Homo sapiens: one gene and its partner. The protein of the gene in region 1 interacts with the protein of each later gene in a biochemical or structural test. Each region holds a gene or a part of one and is shown on either strand. Other genes may lie near its edges.

Evidence for each region.
Region 2: of the proteins of FBXO33 (region 1) and YBX1, one has a biochemical effect on the other in vitro, tested with the Homo sapiens proteins (one study listed by BioGRID).

What each region holds. Positions count from the first base shown.
Region 1 is NC_000014.9:39,425,062-39,430,613, reverse strand, and holds part of FBXO33 (F-box only protein 33), read left to right. Parts: intron 1-5,552. UniProt on the Homo sapiens protein: Substrate recognition component of a SCF (SKP1-CUL1-F-box protein) E3 ubiquitin-protein ligase complex which mediates the ubiquitination and subsequent proteasomal degradation of target proteins. Probably recognizes and binds to phosphorylated target proteins.
Region 2 is NC_000001.11:42,699,373-42,703,005, forward strand, and holds part of YBX1 (Y-box-binding protein 1), read left to right. Parts: intron 1-1,408; coding exon 1,409-1,643; 3' UTR 1,644-1,674; intron 1,675-2,608; 3' UTR 2,609-3,633. UniProt on the Homo sapiens protein: DNA- and RNA-binding protein involved in various processes, such as translational repression, RNA stabilization, mRNA splicing, DNA repair and transcription regulation.

The DNA.
Region 1 (5,552 bases):
GTTGTTTGAGCCTCTCAGTGGCACTATGAGGCAGGGTAATGATAAATAACCCTGTTTTACAGAAAGGAAACTGACCCTTTATAGGATCAAGTGATTTGCACATTGCTGTACGGCATTGTTTTTCTCCGAAAGCGTGTCCTTTTGCAGTAAATATACTGAACATTATGTTGAACAAGGTTGAGAGCAGTCCCTGGTTTAATGCTAGGAGATATATATAGATATAAGGTTATATATATATATGTATGCGCCATTAATCTGTGTCTTAATTTAGAAGTCAAGAGATAAGTTATAGCTCCAAGTTGTATCTGGGATATGGCTCCATTATTCCAGTTGCCTGTGCGTTTCCACAGCTTTTCGCAAGACATTCTATTTCCTTACTTTGGTTTTATCTGGCAGGAGAGGCCATTGAAGCTAAAAACAGATTAGGTTAGAGACTTTCTCAGAGTTGAATGTATGGCTAGAGGACCAACTGACCCAAAAGTTGCAAAGTTTCAGTCAGTGAGCACTTACTAATGAGACCAAGGTTGAGGGTGAATTCAATGAGTGAGTACCAATTAGATTTTTCTGTACTGAGATCAAATTGCACTTTTATGCAACCATGCAAACACTGTATGTGCCTTTGACCCAAGTAAGAACAAGACTTGATAAGTGTCTAGTTCCTTTTAAGTATTTTAATAACTGGTTGGTTGGATGGGTGGATAACATACAGGCAAAATGGAGATATTTCACATCTTTGCTTTGTAGCTTAATTCTCCTGTCCTTCTCTTCCTTACCCCTACAATTTTTATTAGCATCCCAATCTGCTTCTCTATAAGGCCACCGATGCCTGCCCTTCTGGGTCAGCTATCACTTCTATGCAAAAACATCACACCCGTCATCCCTAATTTTAAGGTTTGCTTGTCATCTACTATTAGCATGGTGTTGTATGTCATGCTGCTTTGGTAGCATATTCATTCTGTTTGTCTCAAAATGTAGTGTAATTGCATGTTGTTTGTACTAATGATACATCAAAGGGTTTTTGGAAATAAGTTAATCTCATCTTTACTGTTGAAAGTGTTTTGAGATACTCTGTGATATTGGAAAAGTTAATATGAATATTAAATCCATAAATAAGACTAGTTTCCTTTAAATTTTAACAAATCTGAAAATGTTTTAAACCACATTGTTTATCAGTGACTAGTAAAGCCTATTATTTCTTTCTATAATCACTTAAACTATAGACTTGGGACATTTGACATTGCTCTTTACATTTCCAAGTTAAATTTACAATGGTTTTGCTTTATGATTTCTGCCATTCTATAAGTAGAAAAGAGGGGGTGTGAATCATACCAGATCATAAGCATTCTGCTTCCAGGCTTTGTGCTGAATTCCTTTATACAGTTCATACAATTCAGACTGTTATTTTGTTTTGTTCCAGTTATTTTCATGTCCCTCAGGAAAATAATTAAAAGTATAAACTTGAATTGTGTGAACTTTTCAAGGGTGCTGATCTTCAGAGAGGACAATTGGCATTTTGTTTTGCTTGGTTCCTGGGTTATATATATACATGTATTCTCATAGTGATTATAGTTGCCATACCTGTATCTTAGGTTTTAGGAACAACTAATAAGGATAAAGAAGGTGCATAAGTGCCTCTCTGAGGGTAACACACAGTCCTTCACGTTTCAGAAATTCCTTCTCTACAGGGCACTAGGATACCTGTCTTCTTCATTAATAGTAAGAACAGAGGGGCAGTAAGTACTCATTCAACTGTATTTTAGGTCACATAGGCTGAATTTCTCTGCAGTCGTTCTATAAGAAATTGTACCTAGAAGTGCAAACAACAAATAGATATAAATGCATTTTTAGCATTTAATCCAGTTGTCAGGTTGGGTACTGCCTATTAAAATGCTGTATTTCAGACTCCTTAGGAAAAACGAGAGCTCATGGTAAGATTTATGATAATAGGTAATAGACTCAGTCACTAAAAATACCTGAAGAGTAGCCATAGGCACATTGTCTTCATCTGGTTTATGCTTCTATGGGCTGTATAAATGTTTTACATAAGCTTTTCTTGGGTGGAATGCTGTTAGGGGCAGTACTTTTTTGTTGTTGTTGAGAATTCATATCGTTGGCCAGGGGTGGTGGCTCACACCTGTAATGACAGCACTTTCTGGGAGGCCGAGACGGGTGGATCACTTGAGGTCAGGAGTTCGAGACCAGCCTGGTCAATATGGCAAAACCCCATCTCTTTTAAAATACATAGCCGGGTGTGGCAGTGCATGCCTGTAATCCCAGCTACTCAGGAGGCTGAGGCAGTAGAATCGCTTGAAGTCAGGAGGCAGAGGTTGCAGTGAATAGAGATCGTGCTACTGCACTCCATCCTGGGTGACAGAGCCAGACTCCGTCTCAAAAAAAAATTTAAAAAAAAAGAATGCATATTGTAACAGACCAGAGAAATTTTGTACAAGATTGATTTTCTTTTTAAGATTCTGGGTACAGCTCTAACTGCTTGTATGTAGATTGACCATTTCATGACTGTGTCTGCTTATATATCCTGTAAGTTAAAAAGGATCTATTAATAATACTTAGATTTGGGTCTTGTTGATTTGGCATGCACAGTGAAGGAGAATCTTACCTTTGTATTGTTTCCTACCAAGAAACAATAATAAAGACATTTAAAAATATTTTGAGACAGAGTCTTGCTCTGTGACTCAGGATGGAGCAATCATGATCATAGCTCACTGCAGCCTCAAATTCCTGGGCTCAAATGATCCTCCCACCCCAGCCTCCCTAGTAGCTAGGACTACAGGCATGCACCACCATGCCTGGCTGATATATATATTTTTTTAATTTTGTGTAAAGACAGGATCTCACTGTGTTGCCCAGGCTGGTCTCTAATACCTGGCCTCATATGATTCTCCCATTTCTGCCTCCTAAGGTGCTGGGATTACAGGTGTGATCCCCTGCACCCTGCCTAAAAATGCATTTTAAAATGGGTTAAAAATTCCCTGGACATTTCAGATTACTACCTAAGATGGTAGAAAATGCCTTGAAGGTATTATCTCCAACAGTTTTTAGCCTTATTTTTCTTGAAATATTTCTCCTGTGGTAGTATAATAAATATGTCTAACAATGTTTCATCTCTGAGAGTTTACTTTGTTATTATTTACTTTAAAAAGCCCATTTACAGAATAAATATATTAAAATATACTGGGCCTGTGACCAATCTGCCCTGTTCAAGAATTAGTTTCCTGTGACACTGCATTCCCAGCAGGCTCCTTACCTAAAAACTGAAAAAGAGGCTCCTTAGGGATAGCCTCAAAGTTACTGAGAAGGAAAGCTAAAGAAACTAACCTCCTGGAAGGCTGTTATGAGAGGTTTTAGGACTTTTTATTCCACAGCTGTATTGGCAACTGATAGATGGAATAGGGTGTAAAACTCAAGGAAAAAAAAGTTAAAATTTTTTGACTGTGTTAAATGAGGGTGTTAAGCAGCTTTTGAGTGGAGTGATTAAATATCTCCATTTTAATTTGTTAGTTCTGAGGCAGCCTTGGGAGAGTTCACCAAACTTGACCAATTTATTTAGGAGCTAAAATGATAGTTATAGAAAATCTAGGGTTTTTTCCTCCAATTATTGAGAGCGTACTATGTGCCAGGCGGGGAAGACATGCTTCCCGTTCTCACGGAGTCATTCTAGAGGAGGAAGGAAGACAGAAACAAGTAGACAAAGGAAAGAAGGATTATTTCAGGTTGTGAAAATAAAATCTGAAAATAAAACAGAAGGATGTAATAGTCACTAGGTGGCAACATTAGGTAAAGTGTCAGGGAAACCTCTTTTGAGAAGGATATTTGAGCTGCAGCATGAATAACAAGCGTTGCCCATCTGAAGATCTGAGCAAATAGCATTCCACACACAAGAAACAGTAAGCGCTAAGGTCTTGAGCCAGACAAATTTTTGGTCTGTTCGAGCAGTGGAAAAGAAAGTGTGACAGGGCTGTGGCAAGTGAGGATGAAAATGATGCCATGATGAGTTCTGAGAAGTAGAAGAAGGAAGAATTGGGGTTAGGTAGGCTTATTTAATGAAGTTTGGAATATATTCCAAGGATAGAAGAAGTCACTGAAAAAAATTTTAAGGACAAGAATAATGTGATATCATTTGCATTTTAAGACAATCACCCTGGCCATTTTATGAGCGACTTAGGGACCAAGAGAGAAAGTAGGGGGACAAGTTGGGAAGCTTTTACTGTACTCTAAGCAAGAGATGATGGTAGCTTGAACTATGATGGAGGCAGGAGAGATGAAAAAAAGTGGATGGATTTTGGAAGTATAGCCCAGAGTACTCACCAGTTAGATGTGGGTAGTAAGACAAAAGGAAAAAACAATATTTTTTCATCATTTCTTTCTCACTCGATTTTCTTGTCCTTATTATTGTTAAAATTATCTTTTAATAGCATGTTAAAAAAATAAATATGAAAAAATAAAATAAAAAATAAATAAATAAATAATTTTTAAAAATAGCATGTTAAATAACAACCGCAAGTGTTCATTTTATTTAAATACACCTTTTGTGTGTAACCTTCGGGATTTGGGGATGGTAGTTATTCTTAGATTAGGGGATGGTAATTCTTAGATGGAATTGTAAGTTCTGGGAAATAACTTCTGGTTAATGGGTCCCAAAGCTAATACGGAGTACTGTTATAGGCCGGTTATTTATTTCTGGGTTCTAATGTTGTACTGTCAAATATGGCAGCCAGTAGCTACAGATAGCTATTTAAATTTTAAATAGATAAAATTAAAGACCCCATTAGTTCCACTAGCCACATTTCGAGCGCTCAATAGTCACATATGGCTAGTGACTGCTATATTGTACAACAAAGAATAGTACACTTCCATCCATAGAAGAAAACTACTGGACAACACATCTCTAAACTATTTGTGTTCGTTTGATTTGGCTATGACCGTTCATTAGCATTTTTGAGGAAAGGAAATAATGTTATTAAAAAAGTATAATGTGGATGTTAAAACATGATACTGAAAGTGGACTAAGAAGAATAGAACCAGCCCAAGAGAATTTCATGCAATGATGGTGGATTATTTTAGCTTTTATTAATTTAAAAAAGGAAAAAAGTTATATGTCATTATCTCTTTTATGGCATTGGAAAAGATTTTAATGTTTTTAAGAGCATCTTTTTAAAGAACCATGTTCTTTTATGTTTCCATAACTAATTCTTCTTAGCTGTAATAACTCTTAAGGTGGCTGCATTTTGCATTTTTCTATTGTTCCTGTGTATTAAATCAAAGAAATAATTTTGGATCCTCTGGAATGAAAAGAAACTTAACAAAGTTTACTACCATAGATGAAGTTCCCCAATTCTGACCCACAGAAGAGAGAACAAGGTCATCAGGCCTGAAATCTCAAGCACTGGGTCACAATTGTGCTAAACAGTCCTAACAGGAGTCTGAGAAGAATAATAAGACAATAAAAAATTGTGATGGTTGTTTAATTCATAAGGAAATTCTTGTGCAGTATAGAAAACAAGATATCTCATTTCAGTGGAATTTTAATAAAC
Region 2 (3,633 bases), on another chromosome or scaffold:
ATAGGATAACGATCATAAATTAGAAGTGAGTTCACCCAGCTTGACTCTGTGTTTCTAGCCATTTGGGCATCAGGCTCAGGTTGGGCAGAGAGTTGGATTTATCCAGATTTGGTTTATCCAGATCTGGTTTGATTTATCCAGATCTGGTTTATCCAGATGAAGACACTGGGGTAGGGATTGGTCATATGATTAGTGGTAGACTTTATACTTGGATAAAGAGGGGAGAAAAGGGGAAAATGAGGGTTGTTTTTTTTTTTTTAAATTGTTTTGTAGAAATGGAGTTGCACTGTGTTACTCAAGCAGTCTTGAACTCCTGCCCTCAAGTGATCCTCCCCAAGTGCTAGGATTACAGGTGTGAGCCACTGTGCCCAACCTTGGAGTGAGATGAATAGGTGATAGAATCGCTGTATTACAGGTCCTAGATTAAGAATGAGAAAACAATAAGGAATTACCTAAGAAAAATAGGAAGGTACATAATTGGAAAGTTGAGTGGTATAATTGAAAAAACCCAGGTAGAAAACAGCTGGACTGGGAGGTCAGTCTGAAAGCCCAGGTTATTAGAAGCTGTTACACTCGAACCTTAGTAATAACTGCAGTAAGAAAAAGATAGTAAATGGAGCAGAATCCAAAATAAGATGGAAAGCCTAGTTTTTAGAAACTGGGAGAGTTGATTTAGAAGCCACAATAAGGTTAGAACAGTCACCACTGTAGGGTTGCAGAGAAAAGTCAGAACAATTTTGTTGAAGATTCATCATGAGTTCCAAAAGATGTGGGGAAAGAGTTTTAGAATGTACAAAGGTAAATGTGAATTTATTCCCATGATGACTCATGGATACTAAAGGCCTGGGGCTTTCTGGAGTGCTCAGAGTATGGGCAGAGGAAAGGCCAGGAATCCATCATTTCTGAGCACTGGGGGAAAGAAAATCCCAAAATTTAGTATCTTTATCTTGGTGATTAAAAGACTCAAGCCTGTAATCCCAGCACTCTTTGGGAGGCCAAGGAGGGAGGATAGCTTGAGGTCAGGAATTCAAGACCAGCCTTGGAAACATAGCAACACATCGCTACTAAAAATCAGACATTAATGAGACGTGGGGGGCTTGCCTATAGTCCCAGTTACTCAGGAGTCTGAGGTGGGAAGATCACTTGAGCCTGGGAGATTGAGGCCACAGTGAGCTGTCATCATTCCATGGCACTTTAGTCTGGGCAACAAAGCAAGACTCTTCCCCCTACTCAGCATCCCCCCCCCCCCAAAAAAAAAAACCCATCTCTTTACACAAATTGCCTACAGACCACTTGATACAGAATGGGCCAGACATGGTGAGTTAGTTGTGAACCAACTGGTTACACTGGTGGGTGTGTTGAAGAGAGAAGGTTTTATCATTCTTAAGTTTGACACCGTTCATTGCAGGGGCCCTCCTCGCCAAAGACAGCCTAGAGAGGACGGCAATGAAGAAGATAAAGAAAATCAAGGAGATGAGACCCAAGGTCAGCAGCCACCTCAACGTCGGTACCGCCGCAACTTCAATTACCGACGCAGACGCCCAGAAAACCCTAAACCACAAGATGGCAAAGAGACAAAAGCAGCCGATCCACCAGCTGAGAATTCGTCCGCTCCCGAGGCTGAGCAGGGCGGGGCTGAGTAAATGCCGGCTTACCATCTCTACCATCATCCGGGTAAGCAAGCTTGGATGGCCATCCATTTATGGCAGTCGTGAGTGGTGACCATTTCGTTTTATTAATGCAAGAGTAGAAAAACCTCAGTTCCATCAGATAATGAAAGCCATGTTATTTATAATGTGTTCTGCCCTATTCTTAATTACCTAATATTTCATTTTAGGAATATTGAATATCAGAGTCATATTTGGCCACCCTTCAGCTAGTTCTCAATTCTGACACTGGAGACCTGTATTTTCATGAGTATTTTGAACTATTAGTGCTTTCTATCAACTTTTCTGAATGAATTTTATGATTTCACTAGTAAACAGAGGAAAGTTTTGCTAGCTGTATTCTGAGAAATATGTTAATTACATTATTATTTATGCATTATTTCAAAAAGGAAGTGGGGATAGCTGTTAGAATTAACCTAGATGGTGACAAATAGAGTCTGTTTGGAGAAAGTGGCAACATTAATATAATCTTTTAATCATTTCTAATTGTTTTTTTTTTTTGTTGGTTTATGTTGTTCCCGGAAAAAGACGAGAGTGTTTCGTGTCTAAAAAACTCCTAGAATGACACGTGGTTTATCATGGTTTATTTAAACTGCCTGTAGATTAATAATAATAATTCTCTGGCAGACCACATGATACAATTACGTTCTTGTTACTTTAGCTCATTAGCTCACTTGTTTTTATTACCCTTAATTCCAAAATTAAGGGATTCTTTTTCATTTCGCTTTTTACATGATATCGAGAGGTACGTGATTGTTGTTCCCTCCAAAATTAGCATTCAACCAGTGGTGCTTTTGGTTTTTTCCCGTTTACTATTTGCTGGATGGCAAGAGATCTGTTAATGTCTCCCAATACACAAGTAATGTAAACTAGGGCATGTACTACACTAAATGAAGATCACCATGAATTCTACATGATCATCTTTATTTTTTTCTTTACAGTTTAGTCATCCAACAAGAAGAAATATGAAATTCCAGCAATAAGAAATGAACAAAAGATTGGAGCTGAAGACCTAAAGTGCTTGCTTTTTGCCCGTTGACCAGATAAATAGAACTATCTGCATTATCTATGCAGCATGGGGTTTTTATTATTTTTACCTAAAGACGTCTCTTTTTGGTAATAACAAACGTGTTTTTTAAAAAAGCCTGGTTTTTCTCAATACGCCTTTAAAGGTTTTTAAATTGTTTCATATCTGGTCAAGTTGAGATTTTTAAGAACTTCATTTTTAATTTGTAATAAAAGTTTACAACTTGATTTTTTCAAAAAAGTCAACAAACTGCAAGCACCTGTTAATAAAGGTCTTAAATAATTGTCTTTGTGTAAATTTGTCTAGTTTTGCTTTAGTTTGTAAGTATTTAGCTATTTATAGGACCCTTAGCTTGACCCAGTCTACAAATAGATGATGCTCACTGGTAATTCCCTCAGGTAAAATGTCTCAAAATCTCTAATCCTTTAAGTGGCATGCCTGTGGGCCCATACTAAAAATTAGAAAATACATACTCTGATAACCTGGCCATTTTTCATTGAAGGATTTAGCTCATTTGTAAGAAAGACTTGAGTGTAGATTTTGGGTGGGTCCCTTTGGCTGTGAGGCATTGTTTAAAAGGGCATTGCTCTAGCCTAGACCGACCAGACTCTCATCCTGCTCCACTTAGTTTTGTCACCTTGGGAGAATTTGTTTCAGTGTGTCAATTGAAGATGCCAATTGAAGTGTTAGGACAACCTGTCACACTGCCTGGTGTGGTCATCAAATATTGGTTCAGCTCCTTATGTCCTAGAGATGGAAACAAGTAATATAAAACCCATGGGAAAGCTGCTTAGGAACATGGAGGTTGGTGAGCTTGTAATTATGTGGTTCTCAACACCTTAAATCCTAAGCCTAGTCTGGCTGATCTTTTCTCTTTTTGAGACGGAGTCTTGTTCTGTCATCAGGCTGGAGTACAGTGGCACAATCTTGGCTCACTGC